Homo sapiens: one gene and its partners. The protein of the gene in region 7 interacts with the protein of the main gene of each other region in a biochemical or structural test. Each region holds a gene or a part of one and is shown on either strand. Other genes may lie near its edges.

Region 1 (4,143 bases), about 63 Mb from region 7:
GGTGCTTGCCGCTGACAGTGATTGCTGTATTTTGGGCGATGGGGAACACCATTTCCATTAGTTCAAGTGAAATACAATGCCCTGCCAACTCTAGGTATCAGTGTATTCAATACCCCTGCTGTGCCATGTCCATTTTCTGTTGCTGCAATTAAAAATCAGTCGATACAAAATCAAAATGTTGTACATTCTTCCCCTATCCCTTTCCCTGTCTCTGTTTCCAGCTTCACCGGAAGAACATGTCACTATGGCAACCAACCCCTCCAGTGCACAGACCAAGTCAACCTTTCTAGTCAGACTGCCAAGCAGAGCAACAGGGAATCAAAGCTCTGAATGGAACCGCCAGAAACCATGAATTCCATCCCCCTTTCTCTAAGTGGGGTTAACCAACACAAGAAGGGATACCTCTCTTATTCTAGAAGGCATTCAAGGAAGGAAAAGTAAGAATATCCTTCAACAAATTCTCCCAGTGTTTGCTGTTCATTATTAACATGAATTCTCCCTCACATTTCAGCTAACTTCCTCTCATTTCAATTTTAAAGAAAGCAGAAAATCATGGATAAAATAACACTTTATAAATCTGAGAATCTCAAAACTGTTATAAGGTCACTCATTGTCAAAAACTATTCTAGGCCCTCTTGTTTTCCTGCCTTGGCAGCCAAACCCAAGTTGGTCTCTTCTGGACTCCCCTAATATTCTGTACATCTTTACAAAGTGGTAGTGCTCCAAATGGGTCACCTTGTTCCAATAAGAACCCAATTGTGAAGCAAATGGGATATTGGTTGTATTAACACACCAATAACAAAATCAGCTAAAATCCCTAGTCATTCTAAAGAAGCTATAAAACAAACAGATAGATTCTGTCTCTGAAGCCACCTCACCTAAATCTGACCTGGCCACCTAGACCAGACCCACTGCTTGTCATTCTTAAACACTTGACTTTTTTGCAAATTAACAATTTTTTCTGATCAATTGCACACTTGTATCCATCAAAGAACATCAGTTCTCATAAATATTATTTTAATACAGCAGCAAACCTCACAGCATTATAATGAGACACTAAGAACTGCTTTTATATCTTGGCCTTAAAAACTTTGCAAATAATAGTATCTTTGTCACCTTGACATCACCATTTAATAGTTAAAGAGAATGAAACACAAGGGGAAAAAAACCAGACTCATAAAATCTGCACATCTTCCTAGGATGTAGCTACCATAGAAGAGAACATATTCCTTTCTTCAGAGCAGTTTTAATACACATTCAAACAATATTCCAGTGGGTTGACAACAGGATGGTTCCCAAAGTATAAATCATACAAGGTTTACAAATTCCATCCGATAAGCAGAATTTTTTAAGTAATGTGATCATATTAAAGTATCAAATAAATTTTTATCATTAGCAAATGCAGCTTGTTTTGTGTTTTGACATACACTTTGGGAATTTTTATATACATTTTCTGAAAATCTTATTTTTTTTCTCTGACATGCCCACTTTGATGTTACTGAAAGAACTATTTTTTTTTTACTTATTAGACCTTGTTGATATTCGATGCACAGAAGTCACTACAGTCAACCACTGTTTCAGAAGGAGACATAAAGAATTGTGATATGATGCTGCTGGTCAGCTGGCTTGGAGCTGCTTACAGGACAGGGGCTGTGATTTATTGATGTTTATATGACCAGTGCCTACACCATATCTGGTATAGTATAGCGCTCAGCAAACGTTTCTGGTATGAATAAGGCCTTCTCTGTGAAATGTTTCCCCCAATTTTCCTTGATTAAATCAGTTCAACAAAAATTAGGAACCTGTCTACCCCTGACACATGACTCCTAAAGGGCTTCCTTTAAGAGCACAAACAACGTTCCAGATTCCCTTCTTCTCAGAGGCTGATGAAGCATTATCCTGGATAAGAACCCTGGACCATGAGGTTCCACTCGAATCCCGACAGAGACGCGCGAAAGGAGAGGCAGGGGAGAGAGTTAAGCCTGCACCAAGCTTCATTAACAGCTATTGGGAGGCAAGTCCTGGCCCCGAGGCTCAGCCAGGCCTGGATAACCGGACCGCCTGGAACCCAGAGACCTGATAGCCTGTGGCCTGGGAAGGAGACGCGAGGGGCTGCGGGGCCTAAAGGCGCCGGGCTCTCCGCAGCGCCACGCCTTGCGCCCGGCGCTTACCTTTCCGAATGAGGGCGGCGATCTCGGGGTCGAAGCCCTGCCGGTGGCACTTCCTCCAGAGGCCCATGTTGGTGGAGTTGTACTGCCGGCTGCACTCGTCCGCGGGGCTCATGGCGAACAGCTGCCGGCGATTCCGGGCCCGGAGGAGTTTGCCCTCCCAGCGGTCCAGGCGCGAGCGGCTCGCCCGGAGCGGCAAGTTGTTGTTATTGTTGTAAATGAAGCCGGGGTCGACCCGGCGGGTGTTGAAGGCCTTGCACCTGTCCCTGTGCTTCCTGGCGTCCGTCTCGTACCAGTGGTCCGAGCAGATGGCCACGGCCAGCATGCCGAGGGCGCAGAGCGCTAGCGAGAGGCCAGTGTAGAGCAGTAACCTTCCGGCAGCCATGCCTCCGCTTGGCGGCTACACCATGGGCATGATCCGCCGCAGCCTCGCCTTCCCTCGCCGCACCCGGAACAAAGCGGCGGGCGGCCGAGCTGGGGGAGGGGGCAGGAGAGGGACTCGCGCCGCGGCGCCCCCTCGGCCCCCGCCTACCGGAGCACGGCCCGGGGACTGCGGGGATGGGGGCGGGCGGCCTAAAAAGTTCTGATCCGGAGAGGCTCCCGCGGGCTCCTGGGCATCCTCTGAGGCAGGTGCAGCCTCCGGCGGCGGCGAACCCAGCGCGGCCGCCTCCCGCCCCCTCCCCGCCCCGCAGGAAGCGACTGCCCCGAAGCAGCCGCCTCGGCTCCCAGCCCGGCTTCGGGCGCCGCTGCCCTCGGGCCGGAAACTAAATGCCAAGTGTCCTCGGCTGCGGTGGGGCTTCTTTGTGCAGGATGGTGACGGGACAGAACTCGCCTGTCTCTCTGAGGGGGACGGGGGGTGCTGTCAGGAGGCGCCACTGGACCACCGGGTGAAGTAGAACGCCCCGGATGCGGCCGGCGGGCGAAAGAAACCTCCAGGTGCTGGGGCCGGCTTCTCGGAGTCCCTCCTGGGTCTCTGGCTCAGAGCCTCTCCCCCTCCCCGTCTGCAAGCAAAGACCTGGGGCGCGCACCCAGAAATGTTCTTCCTCTTTGGGTCGGGTCCTCTTAAAATCTCCGTTCTCTGGTCACCAGCAGGTCGGTTGCTCCTTCTGACCCGCGTGCTGCGCTCAGAGGCGCACTCCCCGCGGACGCACGCTCTCGGCCGACCTTTCCCCGCGAGCTCCCCGGTGCCCTGCCTCTGGCATCGCCATTCAGGCGGCCCCTCGGGCCGACAGCGTGTTCACCCGGGCGGCGTTACCGGACGAGACCCGGCCTGGGATCTGCGGAGACTGGGCGGCTGCTGGCGGACGCGAGGGGCGGGCTGCGCGGCGGAGGGTGCACCAGGCAGCGCTCACTGCGCGCGGCGCTAGGGGCTCGGCCCACCGCGCCTTCAACACCATGGACAGGTCACGCCGCCACGGCGCGCTGCCGGCCCAGCCGCCAGCCCCCGAGCGTCACGCAGCTCTTCCCAGCGCCGTCTTCTGCCTGGAGTGTCCACCCGACCGCCTCCGGACCCGGCTCTCCCGCGACGCCTCCGCCTCACTTCATCTGGCACCCGGGAGCCCCGGGAGCCTGCCGCCCAGGTGCAAAGAAAATGCCGCAGGCACCGAAGAAAACCCCGGTCCCGGCCCCTCCAAACAATCCGCCCCTTTCTCCAGGCACCTGAGCCCTTGGCACTCTGGCACCCCGTCTGCTCTGCCCAGCTGGGCTCAGTCGCTCTCAGATTGCACCATTTTCTTCGCAGCCCACCCGGGCGCCGAGATGCCGGCTCACTCGACAGCGTGCAGAGAATCCCGTCCTGGCCTCGGCGTCCCACGATCCGGCTCCCGGCGCGCGGTGGTCGCCGAGATGAATGGGGAGAGGGTGGGGGAGGGAGGCTGGGTCACTCGGCTTCCCCTCGTCGCCTCCTCCTCTAGCCGCGGCGGCTCCGAGGCCTCGCAGGCTCGGCTGGTGCCCGGGAGGCGCGAGAGCCCAGGCT
Region 2 (3,163 bases), on a different chromosome or scaffold from region 7:
TTAACAGGGGATTGCAAACATATTATTATCACACCCATTAGGGCTGTTAAACACCAGGACAGAAATGATAGCCTATGAGGACAGCACTGACCCTCATAGACCAAAACTTCGCTGTGGGGATGATGTGTACGTTGGCCTGTCCTGAAGCAGGAGGTGGTCTTAATGGGCTGAAGACGCTAACTTTTTTTTTTTTGAGACGGAGTCTGGCTTTGTCACCCAGGCTGGAATCCAGTGGTGCGATCTCAGCTCACTGCAACCTCCGCCTCCTGGGTTCAAGCGATCCTCCTGCCTCAGCCTTTTGAGTAGCTGGAACTACAGGCACCTGCCACCACGCCCCGCTAATTTTTGTATTTTTAGTAGAGACGGGGTTTCACCATGTTGGCCAGGCTGGTCTCGAAGTTCTGACCTCAGGTGATCTGCCCACCTCAGCCTCCCAAAGTGCTGGGATTATAGGTGTGAGCCACCGCGCCCGGCCAAAGACGCCAACTCTGAGCCTTAGACACACGCACAACTTGGGAATTTAATCTTCACTTTTCCTCCCATAAATATAGAGTGAGGGTGTGATACCAGCCCCAGCCCAGTCTCCTTGGGGTCTGCATCTCTGCTTCCTGGCAGCCTCTTGAGTCGACTTGGGGATTTGACGTCAGTTGCTCAGCTCCATTCCTTCCTTCTGGACTTGGGGAGGTCCGGATATGTCGGGGAGTGAGTCAGTGCAGGGGACTGAGGGGGTGGTTCCCATTCTCCCTCTAGCCCCCTCAACCAATGATCCAAGTTCAAGGAGCTCATCTCTGTTTTTCAGACCATCGAGCTAGTGCCTTGAAGTCTCCGGAACAGCTGTGGGAGCCAAGAATCATTACTCCACACAAAGGGTAGAGAGCAGATGCAATATCTAGTTATTACAGAGCTGGCCTTGAGAGCCAGGAGCTGTGCCAGGCGCAGATACGAGAGGGGCTGTAGGGGCTGTGTCCAGCTGGCGGTTGTGGTGGGGTGCTGGCTGTAGGGTCTCCCTGGGCTCCTCAGAGAGCTCACATTCTGCCAGGTGCTTCAGAGAAAGGGATAAGGAGGGGCAGGGGCTGGATACCAGTGGCTGTGCCTATCCCCAGGAGAGGACAAAATCTGCCACCTGCAGGACAGCTTTTCCTGCTGTCATCAGCTGTCATACATTCTCTCCATGCCTGGGGCCCGCACTTAGCCAGATCCCCAGAAATCTCAGGCATGTCCTGGCTGAGTCACCTAGAGTCTCTGCGTCTTCATTTCTTTGGCTGTAAACAGGAAGCTATTCATAGCTACCTGCCTCTACAGCCACACTCAGCTACAACTGCGTCTGGATCCCCTCTCCTCATGGGCTCTTGTCAAATGGAGAAGGTGCGGGGGGAAGAGGAGCCTAAAGCACCAAACCTGGGCTAGGGGGTCTGAGGGGAGACAGGGGAGAGGCCACTGCCCCTGGGGCAGCAGTTTTACCAGCTCCCCTCCGTGTGCTCCCCCTCACTCCCCAGGGTACGCCCGCAGGGCTGCAGGCATCATCTGCTTACCGCACCCAGGAAGGGGATGTTGCAGACATTGCCCAGGAAGCCGAAGGCGACAGGGAAAAAGCCCCTAGGAGCAGAGGGGAGAAGGGAGGAGTCAGTGATGGCCCAGGAAGAGAGGATAGAGGGCACGAGGCTGAGGTCCACTGAAAGGTTCAAGCTCTGGCTTCCACACACCAGGGACAGGCTTGATTCTGCACTCCTGTGTTCCGAGAGACAGTCGAGTGACATGATTAAGAATGAAGGCCCCAGGGTCACACTCCTTGGGTTCACTTCTTGGCTCTACCACTTACTGGCACCATATACACTTGGGCAAATTCCTTAACTTCTCTGAATCTCAATTTCCAGCCATAAAATGTGGCTAACAATAACAGTATCTACATCATAAGGCCACGTACAAAGAAATGCTCAGGAAGTGCTTATTTTTATTATTGTTACTCTCATGATTATGACTCTTCTGGCCTAAAGCTTTCTTCTCTTCCTGAGATCCACCTGCCCCGGGTGTCCTGGGCCCTGGGCGTCGGGGGCTGTTGGAAGCCATGCTCACCGTTACACTCCCTGGTGCCCTGGCTCCCCCAGGCACACAGCCACCCCTGCCTTTGGCAACCCTGCTCTCATCAAAGATACCCTGCCAAGGCCTGACTGCAGACACATGCGTGACCCCTCACAGGGCTTGGAGGTGCCAAGGCTGGCATGGGAAGGGATCCCGGTGTGTGGCGGATGGGAAGGGAGATTTGAAATATGGATTCTGGCTGAGCCACTTCCTTACCGTGGGCCTCAATTTTCCAAGGTTTCACTGCACTCTGAGGTCCCTGATAGCTGTAATTTGTTTGCCTCCTGTGTTACTGCACAGTGTCTTTGTCAAGGCTGACTTTCAGTTTGAACTATTGAATTTGCTGCTGTCCCACTCCACTTTCTAAGCCCTCCATAAATGCTAACTGTTGTCAGAATTTATTTATGGGTCTTCCCTACTAAATTGTAAATTCCTTAGGAACTTTCTCCTCATTCAGTGCCACATCCTCACACCTGGCCCTGTATTTGGCATGCAGTAGGTGCTTATTATATATTTGACAATTTGAATAAGCGACTGTTTGAAAATGACATATATGTGTATATATATATATATATATATGTTTTTGTTTTTTTTTTTTTGAGAGAGAGAGTCTCGGTCTGTCACCCAGGCTGGAGGCAGTGGTGTGATCTTGTCTCACTGCAACCTTCGCCCCCTGCGTTTAAGCAATTCTTGTGTCTCAGCCTCCCGAGTAGCTGGGATTACAGGCACTTGCCACCAAGCCTGGCTAATTTTTTTTTGTATTTTTAGTAGAAACAGGGTTTCACTATGTTGGCTAGTCTGTTCTCGAACTCCTGACCTCAAGTGATCCGCCTGCCTCGGCCTCCCAAAGTGCTGGGATTATAGGTGTGAGCCACTGCACCCAGCCATAAAATGACATATTTGAATATGGAATAAATAGATGGCAGGTATGCATGAGAAACTTTAAAGCCACACTTCCCAAAGTCTCTGAGGCCTAGGCCATTCAGGCTAATCAGGGGGTTTCAGGGCTGCCTTCAGCAAACGGGGGCTCCTGTGAGAACCTGGGGATTCCTGAGCCCCACACCTTTCCATGATTGCAGAAGCC
Region 3 (3,500 bases), on a different chromosome or scaffold from region 7:
TGTATCATCCATGGATTGATTGGTAGGTTGACTGGTAGAGATGGGACTTCTATAGTTATTGGGTGCCTAGAAAGACAAACAGCAGAGAGTGTCAATAATTCACTGCATTTCAACAACTAATGAAGACATTCAAAACATACCTCTCATAAATGCAGGCATGATATGGGACAAGTTTCCATTATAATTAATTTGATAAAACATTCTCATTGTATTGAACTTCTGTTGGAAATCATATTCTTGACTGAGATGCAACAGAAATCTAGTCTAGATTAATACTTGCTGTATTGTGCTATGAATTACCTGTTTCAATGTAGAACTCCCTCTCCCAATGTTAAGCTATTTTGATAAGAACAATTACTATCATTTTTATATGGAAATTCTAACACAGTGTCTGAACTTTAAAAAATAAGCAACTTAACATATAAAAAGTTAACAAAACTGACATCAAGATGATATTGTATAATCATTAATCTTCTCTACCGTAATCAAGTCACTTTGACCACATATGTATGTATGTAACAGAAAATATGCAGGTGTGAAAAAAGAAAGACAAATTAAGAGACAAAAGAAACTAGAGAAAGGTCTTTTGATGAGTAATTTAAAAATTTAGATTGACCTTAGTGTTGTTGGTTTTTTTGAGTCAGAGTCTCGCTCTGTTGCCCAAGCTGGAGTGCAGTGGCGCAATCTAGGCTCACTGCAACCCCCACCTCCCAGGTTCAAGCAATTCTGCCTCAGCCTCACGAGTAGCTGGGATTACAGGCAAGCACCATCACGCCCAGCTAATTTTTGTATTTTTAGTAGAGATGGAGTTTCGCCATGTTGGCCAGGCTGGTCTCAAACTCCTGACCTCAGACGATCCGCCCACCTCAGCCTCCCAAAGTGTTGGGATTACAAGCGTGAGCCACCATGACCAGCCAGATGTTAGTGTTTTTAAGAAGAAAGCAAAATGAAAATTCAAGTGCCATGATTACTTATAGAGGTTATCTTTTAAAAAAGAGAATGAAGTAGTTCTAATGTCTTTTTTTGACAGTCCAACCTATTAACTCTTTAATAATCCTTCAAAATATTATTCTACAAAAACCTGAAAAAGTTGGATACCTAATATAGACCGTTGCAAAGCTCCCTTTCATTCCCCAAATTCACAACAATAAATGTGACTAGACTGGCATGAGTAGACAAAGGCTAAGGATGAAGAAGGGAATCCCAAAATTGTGTATGACAGAGCACCAATTTATTTCTTGCTGAAGTGGCTGATGAAATAAAGCAAGGTTTCTTGATTCTACAGTTGGCATCAAGAAGCAATCCATGTTTTTTGCCAACAAACAAAAAAAATATTTTTTGCAAAAGTAACTACTTAATAAATAAAAAGTTAAACTGATAAATTATGAAGGCATCTGATGAACACATGTTGGATTGTCAGAACCTTTTTAGTACTTGGCTTGTGGCCATGTAGAATTCCACTGCGAATAGTTAAAATGAAAAGAAATTTATATACTTTTGGCTAGGAATTGGGGAATTTTTTGTCTTAGTTTGGGCTGCTGTAACAAAATACTGTAGACTGGGTTGCTTAAACCACAAACACTTATTCCTCACAGTTCTGGAGGCTGGGAAGTCCAAGATTAAGAAAATATTTTCCTAACTTGAGAAAAAAAAAAGAGTCCAGTGAGGGCCTGCGGGCCTGTTTCTTGGTTTGCAGACAACTGTCTTCTCAGTATCCTCACATTGCAAAGAGCAGAAAGAGGAAGCAAGCTCTTCTGTCCTTAAAAAGGCACTGATCCCATTCACGAAGACGCCACCCTCATGATCTAATTACATCCCAAAGTCTCCACCTCCTAATATCATCGCATTAGGCATTAGGATTTCAACATATGAATGTTGGGAAGACATAAATGTTCAATCCATAGCAACTTTTTTTGTGAAATTTCATAAACAGGATGCTATGCATTAAAGGAAGAGATTTGAAGTATAGTGGGGATAACGAGCATGAAAATACATATCCCTCTTATCTGCAAACCCAGAAGGAAGTTTCTAGTCTTTTAGTTAAACACTAAGGGGCAGCAGCAAGGCAGAATAAGGAAGAAACTTTTACAGCTCATCAAACTCCTGCAGCCCATAAGGAAATAAAAAAGTTCTTTGGTTGTATAAGTATACACTAATAACTTACCTCCAAAGATAATAATAATAATGAATATCATTACGTTCTTCTATGTGCTTGCTACGCTTCTGGTTCTTTTATGCAATTTAACCATCACAATAACCTTATGACATAAAAATATTATGTCCTCTCCTGGGTTGGATACTGTCCCCTGCAAATTCATGTCCTCCTCAGAACCTCATAATGTGACCTCATTTGAAAATAGGATCCTTGTAATTAGCTAAGCTCAAACAACGCTGTGCTGGAGAGGGGTGGGCCTTTAAGTCCAAGATAACTGGGGTCTCCATAAGAAAAGAAGGAAGGCAGACACACACACACAGCTGAGAACAGTGATGAGAGGGGCAGAGATTGGAGCGATGTGTCTACCAGCCAAGGATCGACAGCTCCACTAGAAGCTGGATAGAAGCATGGGATGGATTCTCATCCCACGAAGAAACCAGTACTTCTGACACTGTTTCTTGTACTTCAACCCTCCAGAATTATGGAAGAATAGATTTCTGTTGTTTTAAGCCACCCCGTTTTGGTAATTTGTCACAGCAGCCCTAGAAAAGGAACAAAGATTTAGGGAAGGCATAGTGTTGATTGTTATTACGCCAGGGTAATTGCTCCTTTATTTATATTCATATAAAAAACTTAGTTTCAAAGGGTATTAAAAATAGAATAGTTCAGAAAATAACTTTCTCCAAATAGCTGATATTTAAATTACAGGCAACTGCATGGTCAGGTTACTGAAAGGACAATAAAATATAAGATTGCTAACTGCAAAAGAGACTGACTTTGCATCTGTAAATTACAAAAGAAAAAAATGACAGTTCCGTATAAACTTACCTTCTGTGTATCCCAGGACTCTGTAAATAGATCTCTTCTCTCTCTCCTTCTCCTTCTGGAATGCATATTCAATAAAGGATATAAAGATATGATATTCCAGTACTAATATTATTTCGAAGACTCTATACCTCACTGTACCCCTAGCCCACATGCACCTTCTAATATGTTGAAGTAGCTTTATGCACATTTATCCAAAATTCTGTTACCCTACAGTTTTTTTCATTTTCCCTGTCTTCTCCAAATTGCTCCCAGATGGTGAGGGCAACTAAATGGATATCTAACCACTGTGCATTAGTAATTAATCTCAGTGATTTTACTAAAGAATGATTTATAGTGACTTATTACATAAATGACTTATAGCTTTCTCCAAATAACCTCACATTTAAGACATTTTCCACAATTAAAATTTATTTTAAATGCCAGCAGTGTAACTTCTTGGATGACAATATAATGAAGCTTTATAAAATCTTTTGGGTGTTATTCTAAATCACTCGTATGGATTATTTTATTAAATCAC
Region 4 (3,500 bases), on a different chromosome or scaffold from region 7:
GAACCATTCTGGATTAAGCTGATCCAGGCAGATGTATTAAAGCAGACACTTAGGGTGGGGTATCTGTGAGTGATTATGGACAATACGGAAGAGTAGAGAAGGGTTGGTTCTATAAGTTATAAGGCCAAGTCTAAATCCTGATGCAGACTCTCAACTGCTGCAATTCTGGGATAGCAACTTCACCTCTCAGCCTCAGTTTCTCCTACTCTCAAAGCAGGATAATCCCACCTGCCTCAATAGACTGCTTTTAGGATCACATGCAATAATGTAAATAACAATTGCAAAATGGCTGGCAATTTATAAAGTGCTTTCCTGTGCATTACTGGTGTTATTACCTTGGCGAAATTTTAGCCTACTGACCTCTAGCAGTTTCTATTCTTACACTGTAAATCTTATGGGATGGGCTCCAACACAACCATTGCAGTATGTGTTCTCCCATATGTGGGTGATTATATAAAAAGAAACACATCTTATCTCTCCAAACACTGAGGTTTTTCATCCATTCATCTAAGCACTCAACAAACAATAATTATATTTTAACATCCTGACTGAATGTAGTTATTAGGCATTAAAGATGTGAAGACAGTGAGATGAAGAGCCTCGTCTCTGATTAAAGAATGTTGTTACACGAGAGCTAAGAATCAGCTCAACTTGCACAACCTGCAGTATTAAGAAAGATGACCTTTGTAAAGCCAATTTTACAGTTGTGAAAGAACAAAAAATTTCAAGGTGGTATCTGAACATACTAAAAACATACATAATAGCTTTACGTGTAAAAATGAACTGTTGGGAATGAAGTATTATTCATTAACCCCTATAGTAGTATAATTTTTCTCAATCAATCATAAACTGTGCATTAGTTACAAATAATCTTAGGTAGGTGTTGTAAACATCAGAATACACTTCAAAAAGGAAATTTCAAATATATTAACATCTTTATTAATATTTGAAAAAACAAACAAAAGAAAGCCCAGTTATACAGTTGAAAAGCACAGAGCTTGAAACTTTTCTACTTTGGAAGGTATTTTGTCATCAATACAGGGTGTTAAAGCAATTATCAAACTCATTTTGACATAAGTCAGAGATCATTTAAATTGTTTGTAGGTTTGACATAAAATTCTTGAAAGCAAATCTGGGAAATGATGGCACTAGCAGGACTTTGTAGAATATAAAAAGGGCATTTTCTCAGAAAACAAACTATTTTACGCCTGAATAGCGTTACCTGGCATTGACTGGGGTCATAGGGTCATAGAATTCTTGAACGATTCTATTGCCATACCATGCTGTGGCAACTAAAATAGCCAGACCTATAGAAATTCAAAACAAAAGACTGTTAATCACCATGGAACACTGAGCCTAAATACACAACCTGTTAAACCAAAACATATTTTGCAAGAATTAAATCTCATCAATAGTGTTGACATTTTTATTTTGGTATTAGGGAGATTAGAAGTCCAGATATGATTTATTCCAAGTATCTATTAAAATATAAAAAAATACTAGGTTGGCATTAGACAAAATTTATACTTTTTTATGATATCTTGGCACAAATAATTCTTTTTTGGAAACAATTAGGCAGGTGTATGTTGTACAAAATCTCTTTTAAATATGCTGTTATACATTAGGATACTAAACTACATTTGATAAAACTATTGTCATTATTAGTACAGGTAGAATTACTTGCAAAAGGGGAAGATGAAAACTCTTCTATGTTCTTGATCAAACTCAAAATTTACATTTCTGCAGAGTCAAAAGGAATGCAAGCAGCTAGATAGAGTGAGATCAGGACATGTCTCAGAATGGACCAGAATACCTGCATTACTACTGCCCCATTGGCCAAGGGAATACCTGATATAGGTATAGGTTGGCCTGAGATTTGTTGAGGGTGCCACATCAGATCAATTTATGCAACCCAATCTCAATTTCCCATGGCATTTTATATTCAATGATAGCAGAGAAATCATTTAGTCAAAATCATTCACTTAATCATTTATAAGATGTATAAAATACTTCATTTTTTTATCAAAAAAGTTAAATAACTTTTTTGTAGTAATTCTAAGTATTCATCAATATAGATAGATTAGATGTTTCTATGCTACTGTCTCTCCCCAGCCAAAAACATGGTCCAATGTAATTGCCTCTAGACATGACAGAAAACACTATTGCTTTTGGCTTCTCAAATAGACCATGCGAATGGTCTTGAACTTGTGATGCTTACTCCTAAGAGAAGTCCCTGAAACTGGAATAGGAGTGATGCAGTCACATGTGGGAGTTACAAGAAGGCAAGCGAAGGAAGAATGCAATGCATTTCATCCTCATCGTCTTCCAAGCACTTCATACACTTCATGCCACGATGGCCACAAAGATTACTATTCGCAGCCTTTGATATAAGAGTAAATTATTGGGAATAAGACACTATCCATGCCTTTTCAGAGAGGAGTCAATTTGTATTTGGGTAAACTGAGAGACTGGTCATTTTAAACTAACCACATCTTTAGCAAAGCCACAGATACTCTTCCTCAATTACTGGTTAAACTGACATATTATACTGAAGCAAAAGCCCCTACAAGTCTTCTGTCAAAAAGAAAATAAGAAAATAAAGTCTATTCTAGTTTTTTTCTATTAGTAGATTTGTATCATTAATTATATCTGTTATTTTTTTAAAATAATATACTATAATATACTACATATATAATATATGCATCTAATACCTAATATAGAGAACATATAGTAGTCTATTATTATAGCTGTATAATTTATATGGAGATTATCAACATATATAACACAGTGTATAGATATAAAGATATATATATACACACAGAGAGATTGCATATGTATGTACATATACACACGTAAGTATACATACACTATAATTTTTTAAATAGGCATTATTATAAAGCTTTGAAATAATGCTGTCCATGTTTTCTGACTTTGATTTTCTCAAATGACACATAATGTAACTTATCAATCAACACTTGAATTAAAAAACAGATATTTCTTTTCTTTTCTTTTTTCTTTTTTTTTTAGACAGTCTTCTGTTGCTTAGGCTGGAGTGCAGTGGTGCGATCTCGGCTCCCGAGTTGAGGTGATTCTCATGCCTCAGCCTCTGGAGTATATGGGATTACAGGCGTGCACCACCACACCCAGCTAATTTTTGTGTTTTCAGTAGAGATGGGGTTTCACCATGTTGGCCAGGCTGGTCTTGAACTCACGACCTCAGGTGATCCGCCCTCCTCAGCCTCCAAAAGTGCTGGGATTACAGGCGTGAACCACCACACCTGGCCTAAAAAACACGTATTTATTTTAAATGGAAAATATAATATTATTTTATCAAAAAAATTTAAAGGTATTTCTGTATTTTTTTTTTCCTAACTGCTTTAAACTGACCATTCCAACAGGCCACCTCTACTCCAGTTGGCCTTTCTTTTCATTGATCTACAGGCACATCCTGTTTATTCTCGAATTAGATCTGCCCAGCTGGAATGCTATCCTTATTTTTC
Region 5 (3,500 bases), on a different chromosome or scaffold from region 7:
AAGGGCATCCAGATGAATGAGTCCCCCAGCTGGCTTAAGCCCATTAGAGAAAATGTCTTGGGGATAAGTTTCTGGGGCAGCGTGATCCACACCATTAACTTCCTGGCAGGTGTTCAATCCATTGATTTCTGATCGAGAACACAAAGTCCCTTGTGTTAATCATAAAATGTCTAAATAAAGTAACAGAGAAATATAGATCAAGGCAATTAATTTAATGCTCTGCTTCACTGATACTGCAGCATCTTTTGTGGAAAGAGCCACAAATAAACCCATATAATCACCTTCACACAGGAGAAGAGAAGACAAATCACATTATCAGTGTCTGTGCAGAACCTCTGGAGAAGAGCAGAGTCAGGTCCTAACAGTAATAAAACCTGACCAGCAGTTAAGCTCCCTGGAAAGCACTGTGAGCCAGCAGCCAGAGTGCCTCCTATGCTGGGATTATGGGAGTAACCAAGGAACCCAGTGGGTTCCCAAGTGGAGCTGACAGTCCCTGTGCTGGAGACACATTCCCAGGGAAGGGAAACTGCACAGGCCCCTGCCAGCAGTCACCCTCTTGGGATCCATGGGTCTGTTTACCCTACACCAAGTCTTACGAGCTTTTGCTACTAAAAGGAAGAACCCAAGAACCAGATGTCACACTCACCCATTTTGTTGGGGACAACCAGTTTTGTCTTCTTTTCCACACACACAGCAGGCTGGACCCCCACTTTGGGGTCTTCTTTCTGAAAACAAATGGAAGGTGAATGAAATGAGGGAAGGCTGACATCACACAGAAAAAAAGTACTTTTTAAAAGCATCCGATGATATTTTGAGCCTGGACCATCTGCCTGTTCTGTGGTAATTCTTTAAATCTTCAGCTGTGTTTCCCTTATTCTTACGTATTTTTATGTCAGGATTCTCTTTTTTATTCATGGACTACTATGCCTCTCTCTTCATCCCACCTCCCATGACTCTAAGGAAATCTCTTACCCATCCCACCTCTGAAGCCCCTCTTTCTTTTCAGGTACCTAACCCTCCTTAACCTAGCCAGGAACAAAGCAGGAAAACTGCATTTTTTTCTGGCTAATCGTCGCCAAGACCTACAATTTCACTGAGTGTATTCTGCTGTTCTTTTCTACTTAGTACATAAACTATTAAAATGGTCATTTGAATTCCTACCTTCACTTGTGGAGACACATCACTTTTCCTTGTTCTCTTCATGATTTCATCTATTCTCTAAAAACAAAAAACAAAAAACAAAATCAAGTAAGAGGACAATAAGACCAAAAACATAAAAGTAGCTTGGTTTACATGCAATGTCACATTTCTCAGAAAACTTGTAAAAGGCAAAAGTCAGAAGAGGATAACAAGTATAGAAAGGTTTTCCACTAGTTTTGGAGATGTACACCTCCGGCCCCATGGACAAGGTCAAATGCTTGAGAAGTTAACTAGTACGTATCTAGAATCAATATTCGATTTATATCCCATATTTCTCCTTCTTCTCCTTAGGCTCTGTATAAATCAACAAATTACCACCTGCCATTAAAGAGCACCACCCTACAGAAAGTGAGGCTGAGGCTGAGGTGCATCTCAGGAGAGAAGGCCACAGGCTGGTCTCCTGGATCCCAGGCCTACAGCAATACAAAGCCCAGGTTGGGCCTAGGACACCATGAGAATACTCCTTTATAATCAGTCTGCTTAAACCCAATTTTACCCATAAGTATAGTTAGTGTAAATGGACTAAACACTCCAATTAAAAGACAAAGACTGTCAAACAGAATTAAAATAACAATTCCTGGCTATATGCTCTTTACTTATAAAAACACACAGAAGAAGTTTTAAGTAGAAGGGTGAAAAAGATTTGACATACAGACACTAATCATAAAAGGGCTGTCAGGCCAAGCACAGTGGCTCACGTCTATAATCCCAGCACTTTGGAAGGCCGAGGCAGGAGGATCCCTTGAGTCCAGGAGTTCGAGACCAGCCTGGCCAACATGGTGAAATCCCATCTCTACTAAAAATACAAAAATTAGCCAGGTGTGGTGGTGTGCGCCTGTAATCCCAGCTAGTTGGGAGGCTGAGGCAGGAGAATCGCTTGAACCTGGGAGGTGGAGGTTGTGGTGAGCCGAGATCACACCACTGCACTCCAGCATGGGCAATAGAGTGAGACTGTCTCAAAAAAATAAAAGGCAGGGGGCTGTCAAAGTAGACTTTAAGACAAGAAATATCACTAGAGACAAAGGCATATCACGATAAATATATATAAAACAAAACCTGACAGAACTGAAAGGAAAAATGGACAAATCCATAATCACAGATGGAGTTATTCTTTTTTCTATTATTTGGGACAGGGTCTCACTCCTGTTCCCCAGGCTGGACTGCAGTGGCATGATCTCGGCTCACTGCAGGCTTAACTTCCCGAGTTCAGGTCATCTTCCCACCTCAACCTCCTACGTAGCTGGGACTACAGACACATGCCATCACACCCAGCTATTTTTTGTATTTTTAGTAGAGACAGGGTTTCACTGTATTACTCAAGCTGGTCTGGAACTTCTGGGCTCAAGTGATCCTCCCGCCTCTGCCTCCCTAAATGCTGGGATTACAGGTGTGAGCCACCATGCCTCGCTACAGATGGAGTTTTTAACAATCTTTCTCAATCACTGATGGAACGAGATGGCAAAAAACTAATAAAGACATAAAAGATTTGAACAGTGGTATCAATGAACTTGACCTAACTGACAATCCTAGGATCATTCTATCCAATCACTGCAGAAGAGAACTGGATTTACTTCCTGTTCACTTACCCTAGGTCTTCCTGACCCTCAGCCCTTACCTTCTTTCTCTCCAGTCTCTCCTGCTCAATCTGCAGCATAATCTGTTCTCTCTCGAGACGCATCTGTTCAGCTACCTCCCGGGCCTTTGTTTCTGCTGCTTCTTTCTAACAGAAACAGGTAAATCAAGGCAAAGCTTTAATAAGCTAAGAAAACAGTGTGGTAATTCCCTGGCTTTGCACATGTTCCTTCATCTCATCATCTGCCCTAAAGTGGATGCTGCTCCAATATTCAATGTGGATTTATACAAACCACTGCATGACACAGCAAACATGGTTGGACCTCATTCATATACCCCTGGCTCACCATGCAAATCACCTGCAGACAGTTCTCACACATGGCCAAGGCTTTTCTGTGTCTGTGGGCAGGCTTGGGCCATGAAGTGTGCATGTGGCCAGATCAGAGAGTTAATTCCCCAGGGAGTGACCTTCTACTACCGTGAAGGGCAGGATGTGGTAGATAAGTAGTTCAGTTTCCTCATCCCTCAGCTGGACAATTCTAAAGCATGATCCACAGTCTGTCAGAGGTTCCCAATGGGACTGTGTTCCAGTCACCCACAGTAACACATGCATCAATGCACTTACATTGGCTTTTCTCCTATTCCTCTACCAGCTTCCTGGGATTCGCTTGCAAAAAAAACTGCTGGCACTCAAATTCTTAGCCCAGGGTTTGCCTTTGGGGAAACCC
Region 6 (3,500 bases), on a different chromosome or scaffold from region 7:
CATTTTCAATTCTCTTGGGTGTACACCTAGGAGCGGAATTGCTGGGTCATATGTTCATATACAATAATGCTATGTTTAACCATGTGAGGAACTGCCAAACCATTTTCCACAGTGGCAACACCATTTTACACTCCCTCCAGCAATGTCCCAATTTCTCTACATCTTTGCTAATACTTTCATTGTCTGCCTTTTCAATTATAGCCATCCTCATAGGGTAGAGGTGGTATCTCAGTGTGGTTTTGGTTTGCATTTTTCTAATGACTAATGATATTGAGCATCTTTTCATGTGCCTACTGCCATTTGTATATCTTGCTTTGGAGAAATGTCTATACAAACAGGTTGAGGAATTTGGCTGAGGAAATGGAAGTGCGTGTGGCTAGGGAGGAGTCCCTCTGCGGGGCATAAACACTCAGAGGAAGCAAGGAACTGTTGAAACAAAACTGACACCTGACGAGGAGACGGGAAATTGGCCTAGGGAAGAGGAGTGTCATGGGACACTCAGTGGGAGTCACTTTAAAGGCAAGGAGGAAATAAGGCAGTTCAAAGCAAAGGCTCCCAGAGGAGGTGGAGGGGACCATTTCTGAGCCTCAGCTCCTCTCACCAGCCGCAGTGGGTTTCCTGCTGTAGTCTGGGCTCCATGCCACAGGCTTTCTGTGCACTGGCCCATGAACCCTCTCCACAGCTCCGTCCCTTTGGTGTCTTATTATCTCTATGCTTCTGATAAGGACACCCAGGCTCAGAGGAACTAGCTTTGCTGGTTAGCATTGGTCCCAGGACTCAAGCCCAGGTAAGTGTTAAACTCAACATCACTCAATGCTCCTTGTACAAGTTTGACAGGGGGAAGAAGCACAGTGCTTTTCTCTGTCTTGGCCCACCCAAACCTAGCCAAGTCACTTCATAGGTAGCAGTGCCAGTCCACCAAGGGGCCAAGCCAACCAGGTGAGAGAGCGGGAGCTGAGGCTGGGAGCAGAAGTCCTTGACCTGGAGCCCCAGCTCTGAAGGAAACCCAAGGAATGGATGGGGGAGAGGGGTGGAAGCCTGTGGGCCAGCTCAGAATGTGAGGCCCCCGCCTCCAGGCCAGACCCTGGACCCTCCACTTAGCTTCCTGGGTATACTGGTGGCATCCTTGCTGTGCCCCAGCCTGTCTAGCCCCAGTTCCAGCCCCCTGGCCTCTCACCTGCCCACTCATGGAGCCTGCTCACCTGCCTCAGGTGATCTCCCACTCCAGCCTCACCTCTGGCTCTCCCTGAAGCTTCAATCCCAGCCTTTTCTGCCAAGGCTCAAAGCCTTCCTGGGAGTACTTTATCCTTTAGAGATATGGCTGTTTGTGGAGGGCAAAGTCCACAGCCTGTGCCTCTGGGCAGGGGAGGGAAGCACTGGCCACATTCCTCCGGGTTCTGAGAGGAGCACGAGTCATGTATTGGGGGTCAGCTGGTCACTGAATGGGGCTTGTCAGGCAGGCTGCCCACCCCCTCCGAGCCTTTCCTGTGGGCTGGGGTCTCTGCTGACGCGCTGACAGCAAACCTTCGCCTCCCTGACTCAGGGCGGAACTCCCCTTGGAAGGATGGTCCAGTCCAGGACTGCGTGTCCTCCTGTGGAAGGGCACTGAGACCCTGCCCTGTGCTGTGGGGCCTTTGTCAGGGGCCACCCCTGACAGGAGGATGGGACGGCCATGGGACTGAACCTGGGCTGGGCAGGCGGTTGCCTGCGGGAATGAAGGGACCTGGGGCAGAGAGCCAGGCCCTAGTTTAAAAAACCCAGTCCCTCTCTCTCCCAGGTGGGCAGCTAAGTTTTGGGGTCCCAGGTAGGCCAGGTGGCTCCAGGGGCTAGGGACCCACAGCCCGAGCTGGCCCGCAATGGGTCTGTGTGTCTGACTGTCAGTCGGTCACTTGGCTGATCACTCATGCAGGCACATCGTGTCCACCTGCTGGTAAGCCAGCCAGCCGGCGGGCTACTGTCTTTCAGGAGAGCTGTCCGTTCAGGCCGTCAGTCAGCCACCTGCCTGCAGCTCCTCATAAGACAGTCAGACAAGTTCCTGAAAGTCTGTCAGCCACAAACTTCGTTTCCCAGGTATCTGGTCAGTCAGAGACTCACCCTTCAAGGGGCTGCCCTTCATGGGTAGAGTCAGCCTTCTCCACACCACCTGAGTCTGGGTGATGAGGAGCAAGGTTTCAGAGACCAGCCTGACTGCAAGGACCGCCTTCCTTTACCTGTTCTCTGTGGGAAAGGCCCAGGATTCTGCCTCCTTTGGCTGCCTCCCAGCAGCAAAGGACAGATCTCAGGGAAATGTGAGGCTGAGAATAGGCTTTAAGGCCTCAGACCTGGGTTGGAATCCCAGATGTGCTACAAGCCCACTGTGTGAGCCTGGGCACATCCCTGAGCTTTCTGAGCCTCAGTTTCCCCATTTGTAAGGTGAATATAACAGTATTTACTGATGGAATTCAGGACACACTATTCTCCAAATATGGCACCTTGGCCACATTTGAGAAAACAGTAGAAGCAGGTCATAAAACCTAGGATAGTCACCCCACTCTGACCTTCTCCCACCTTTCACCCTGAAATAGGTCATAAGATTCTCATTTGAGAGTTGCTGTCTTTGTACCTGGAGAAAAAAAAAACAGCCTTAACTTTGAAGATGCAAGGACACAGAGAAGAATCTGAACAAACAGGCCTTGCTAGGTTCCCCTAAGTGTATCACCATTAGCTCACACACTCTTTGTGCAATACTTCCACAACTATATACTTCTTCATCAAACTTGGCATAAAAAGTCACAAGTTTTTGACATTTTAGGCTAGATGATTAAAAAATAATAAACCAGCCTGGGCAACATGGTGAAACCTCATCTGTACTACAAATGCAAAAAATTAGCCAGGTGTGGTGGTGCATGCCTGTAATCCCAGCTACTCGGGAGGCCGAGGCAAGAGGATCACTTGAGCCTGGGAGTCAGAGGTTGCAGTGAGCCGAGATCATGCCACTGCACTCCAGCCTGGGCGACAGCGTGAGACCCTGTCTCAAAAAATAAATAAATAAATAATTTAATTTAATTCAATATAATAAAAACTAAAAAGTTTAAGAATACACACGTTTTCCCATTTCTTTGGGTCTTCATTTCTGAAGGCCCCTGTGTCATGTAAAACTTATATTAAATAAATTTGGGCCAGGCGCAGTGGCTCACGCCTGTAATTCCAACACTTTGGGAGGCCGAGGTGGGAGAATTACCAAGCCCAGTAGTTCCAGAGTAGCCTGGGTGACATGGTGATACCCCATCTCTATGTAAAAATAATAATAAGTAAATTAAATTTTTAAAAGCCAAATAAATTTGTATGCTTTTCTCCTGTTAAGCTGTCTTTTGTTATAGGGACCTCAGCCACCAGCCTAGCAAAGAGTGAGGACAAGAAATCTCTTCTCCTCTATACGACCTCAAAGAGGTAAGGCCTTTGGGGCAGCTGGCCTGGCATATAGGTGGCCCTTGCTCTCTTTTCCTGATAAATATTCAAGC
Region 7 (3,500 bases):
GTTGACACCTTGGCTCTACTATTTAACAGATACATGATATTGACCAAGTTCCCTGCTTTGAGCCACAGTTCCTCATTTGTAAAGTTGTGAGAATGAAATGACATAATGTAGGAAAAGTACTTGGCATAGTGTATGACACACAGTGCTCAATAAATGTGGACTATTATTAATATGATTGTTGTTAAAATAGGATGGAGGAGATTTGGGTCCCTTGGTTTCAAACAGAAAGTTGCCACAGTTCATCCTCTGATCTTAGATAAACTAATATTTCTGTGGATCAGTTTCAATAAAGGCACTTGTCCTTTCTCCCCAGTGAACTATCACAGATTTTCAGAGGTCTACTGGTTAGAGGCTAACTTTATGATTAGAAATGCTCTGAATGCAAATTATCCATTATAAAATATATTCAGAGAAATATTTTTTCCTGCTTAAAATGCAGAAAATCATGGCTGTTTGAGATAAATGTTTTTTTAAAAATTTCAATTATGTATGAATAACAATTTTATTTTTGGAGAACTATTTTATCATGGATTGGTATTTTTATCTTCACAAACCATAATACTTGAAAATTGAGCTTGCAAATTGAGATTGTGCCTGACTATGCTGAGGAGTATATTAGGGATGAAGAGACATGTTTTCACAGATCTTGAAATAAGCAACTCAACAGACATCAGTTTATCAGAATAATTCTGGAATGGGAGGTACAAATGGCTAGGGATTTCATTCTGAGACATCCTTGCCCAGCAAGCTTGCAAACGTTAAAAATGAAAAACAGAGTTGAACTTTTAGAGTTGACAACTTTTCTGGTCTTTTGTAGGTGTATAACATAAAATGAATAAAACAATTAACAGCATTGTCTTAATTAACAGTCCCTCTTCCCAAATTGACAGAGAGGCCAAGCAGACATTTTCAGGGATCCAGGTTAGGTCTGCCTCTAGAAAATGTCACAACCTATGTGATTGGTCAGATGGAACTTCACTTTTCCATAATGTCTATCAGAGAGGGTACTGATGTGGTGGCTGGAACGTGGGTCCACGGCTCAGAACTGAATTGGAGTGGACATTCCCTCACTGTTATTATAATTCCTCTTCAGACTGTGGCAGCTGGGGATGCTTTGGGAATCGTTTTTAATTGATTCCATTCATCTCAGTGTCCCAGAGAAGTGTCTGATTCAGATAGACTATTTTTCTCTCCTGTTTCTTTTAGTTTTAATGTTATATTTTCTACATTTAAAAGGTTGAAAGAACAACAAATACTTGTATACTAACATCCAACTTAATGATTGGAACATTGCTCATATTAGTTGAATCCCCCTTGGCTAGCACCTCTCCCCCAACTTGCACTCCTTTACAGCCCTTTCCAAGGTAACCATTGCCCTATTTGAGGTTTGTTATTTACATATACCTTTATAATTTATATCATATCTAGGTGTCCGTAAAAACAATATCTCTAAATAGTATCTAATCTCTAAATAATAATAATCCCTGGAAAGTATTTTACATATTTTAAGCCTTTTGTAAATGGTATATATTTTAATATTCTGTAACTTTTCTTAAAATATGTTTGTGATATTTATCTATTTTGATACTTGTGCCTCTAGTTGATTAGTTTTCATTGTAATACAGTATTTAGTGATGGCTATATTACTACTTAATAACATTCATCCATTCTTTTGTTAATGGACACCGGAGTTATGACAAATCTGTGGCTATTGAAAATAACTCTGCTATGAACCCCATGCTGGCACAGACCATGTGCATCTTCAACTTTGTTAGATAGTGGCAAATGGCTGACAAAAGAGGTCACATTGATTTACACTCTGATCGGTAGTGTGTTGAAATTTTCATTGCTTTACATCTGACACAGTACTTCGTATTCTCAGACTTAATTTTTACCAATCTAATGGATGTGATCATAGTTTTGATTTGCATTTCCCAGACTGCCAGTGAAGGTGAGCATCTTTTCATGTTTATTGGCCTTTTGGATTTTCTCTTGGGTATGCCTCATTTCCTCAATTTCCTATTCAGTGAGTTTTTTTTAACTCATTGACTATTTTTTATGTCTACTTTCATTCTTGCTCCAACATTCTTCTTAGGTTCAGGAGGCTGCAAGGTATAGTAGAGATCACATGGGATATGAGGTCAAAAGACTTTGGTCTGAGTTCTAGTTTCATCACTTATTAGCTGTATAACTTTCCCAAACTGGCTTCAATCCTCTGTGACTCAGATTTTTTAGAAGTAATGATGAACAATAGTAATAGCAACTTATTGTTCCATGGGAAATAACGAATGAGATCATACAGGTGAAAGGGTTTCTAAGCTGTAAATTGTTATGCAAAAGATGATTGCTATTTCAGTAATTACTCTTTGTCCTTTGTTATATTCTTCTATAAAATCAGGACAGTTCTACCCAGATATTCCCACCACAGTTACAGTCAAGGATGACTTGAGTATGATTGTGGAAACAATGGGTTTCTGAATGGCCAAGTAAAAGTCAGAGAGGTAACAAATGCCACTTCCTCTAAGGCTCTCCCTAACTTTAATCACTGTTAACAGACTCCCCAGTCCCCAAGCACGCTCTCTCCTTCCCTCTGCTCTGCCAGAATTTCACGGGAAAGAACTAAGGGTTATGTTGAAAGCTCTCAAGTTTCCCTGCCAGGTCTAGAGAGTAGTAGTTTGAATTGTAGTGATTAATGTTACCTATTTTTGAGTTTTAATGTGATCTTGCTATTTAGAAACAGAGTGAGAACTATTTGTGTTTCTTAGTAAGACTGCCTTTTACAATTTATGGATATTTTCCACTAACAGCAATTTTTCAAGTCATCAGGCAAGGATAAAGAACACTGCAACAATATCTTTATGAAGATACGTAGAAGATTTCTGAATGTAAAAGATGAGTGGTCAGTTATCACAGGATAAAACTATATAACAACTTGATGGTACTCAACTGCCCACTTTAAAAAAATATATAGATGTCTAGATAATAAGTCATGCCCAAAACTCTTATAGACGGGGATGTCAGCAAACATTTGCTTGTTCAGATAGAACTTATTGGATAGAATATTAATAGACTGTGCTGTATGAATGTCATTTACATGTCGTGAAATAAAAATATAAGACACCTGGTATATGTCATCTGACGGTGCCATGCCAAGTCCTCAGACAGATTGGGTTTAAGAGCACAGAAAGGGACATCATCAGGAAGACTGGCTCTGGCTCTAACCTGTTGGCCTACTTAAGACGGAGAATTGGAAGAGTCACTTGATCTCCCCATCTCTCAATTTCTTCTTTTATAAAATGGGAATAAAAATATCTCTTACATTTCCTCTTTTGCAGAGCTACTGTGAAAATGAGATCATCCTTGTGAAAATACTTATAATTTTATCAAATTTTTTCTCCATAAAAATAAGAAGATACATTTCTTTTGAAAGCTAAGCATATATTTTCATTACTACATTGCTGGAAAATTTACTTTGTTTGCTAAATGGTCATTCACTTCAG

Evidence for each region.
Region 1: the proteins of MAGI2 (region 7) and TMEM178B interact in a test that uses a peptide from one of them, tested with the Homo sapiens proteins (one large-scale study listed by IntAct).
Region 2: the proteins of MAGI2 (region 7) and GOLT1A interact in a test that uses a peptide from one of them, tested with the Homo sapiens proteins (one large-scale study listed by IntAct).
Region 3: the proteins of MAGI2 (region 7) and CD226 interact in a test that uses a peptide from one of them, tested with the Homo sapiens proteins (one large-scale study listed by IntAct).
Region 4: the proteins of MAGI2 (region 7) and CLDN1 interact in a test that uses a peptide from one of them, tested with the Homo sapiens proteins (one large-scale study listed by IntAct).
Region 5: the proteins of MAGI2 (region 7) and MAP7D2 interact in a test that uses a peptide from one of them, tested with the Homo sapiens proteins (one large-scale study listed by IntAct).
Region 6: the proteins of MAGI2 (region 7) and SLCO2B1 interact in a test that uses a peptide from one of them, tested with the Homo sapiens proteins (one large-scale study listed by IntAct).

The regions. Positions count from the first base shown.
Region 1 is NC_000007.14:141,072,721-141,076,863, reverse strand, and holds the start of TMEM178B (transmembrane protein 178B precursor), read right to left. Parts: upstream 2,801-4,143; 5' UTR 2,554-2,800; coding exon 2,172-2,553; intron 1-2,171.
Region 2 is NC_000001.11:204,197,663-204,200,825, forward strand, and holds the end of GOLT1A (vesicle transport protein GOT1A), read right to left. Parts: intron 1,597-3,163; coding exon 1,533-1,596; intron 835-1,532; coding exon 796-834; 3' UTR 677-795; coding exon of another isoform or gene 644-676; 3' UTR 501-643; downstream 1-500. UniProt on the Homo sapiens protein: May be involved in fusion of ER-derived transport vesicles with the Golgi complex.
Region 3 is NC_000018.10:69,864,374-69,867,873, forward strand, and holds part of CD226 (CD226 antigen isoform a precursor), read right to left. Parts: exon of another isoform or gene 3,374-3,500; intron 3,039-3,373; coding exon 2,984-3,038; intron 67-2,983; coding exon 1-66.
Region 4 is NC_000003.12:190,308,947-190,312,446, forward strand, and holds part of CLDN1 (claudin-1), read right to left. Parts: intron 1,308-3,500; coding exon 1,223-1,307; intron 1-1,222.
Region 5 is NC_000023.11:20,012,408-20,015,907, forward strand, and holds part of MAP7D2 (MAP7 domain-containing protein 2), read right to left. Parts: intron 2,921-3,500; coding exon 2,816-2,920; intron 1,219-2,815; coding exon 1,162-1,218; intron 726-1,161; coding exon 647-725; intron 129-646; coding exon 1-128. UniProt on the Homo sapiens protein: Microtubule-stabilizing protein that plays a role in the control of cell motility and neurite outgrowth via direct binding to the microtubule. Acts as a critical cofactor for kinesin transport.
Region 6 is NC_000011.10:75,157,607-75,161,106, reverse strand, and holds part of SLCO2B1 (solute carrier organic anion transporter family member 2B1), read right to left. Parts: intron 1,276-3,500; exon of another isoform or gene 1,178-1,275; intron 1-1,177. UniProt on the Homo sapiens protein: Mediates the Na(+)-independent transport of steroid sulfate conjugates and other specific organic anions.
Region 7 is NC_000007.14:78,257,168-78,260,667, forward strand, and holds part of MAGI2 (membrane-associated guanylate kinase, WW and PDZ domain-containing protein 2), read right to left. Parts: intron 1-3,500. UniProt on the Homo sapiens protein: Seems to act as a scaffold molecule at synaptic junctions by assembling neurotransmitter receptors and cell adhesion proteins. Plays a role in nerve growth factor (NGF)-induced recruitment of RAPGEF2 to late endosomes and neurite outgrowth.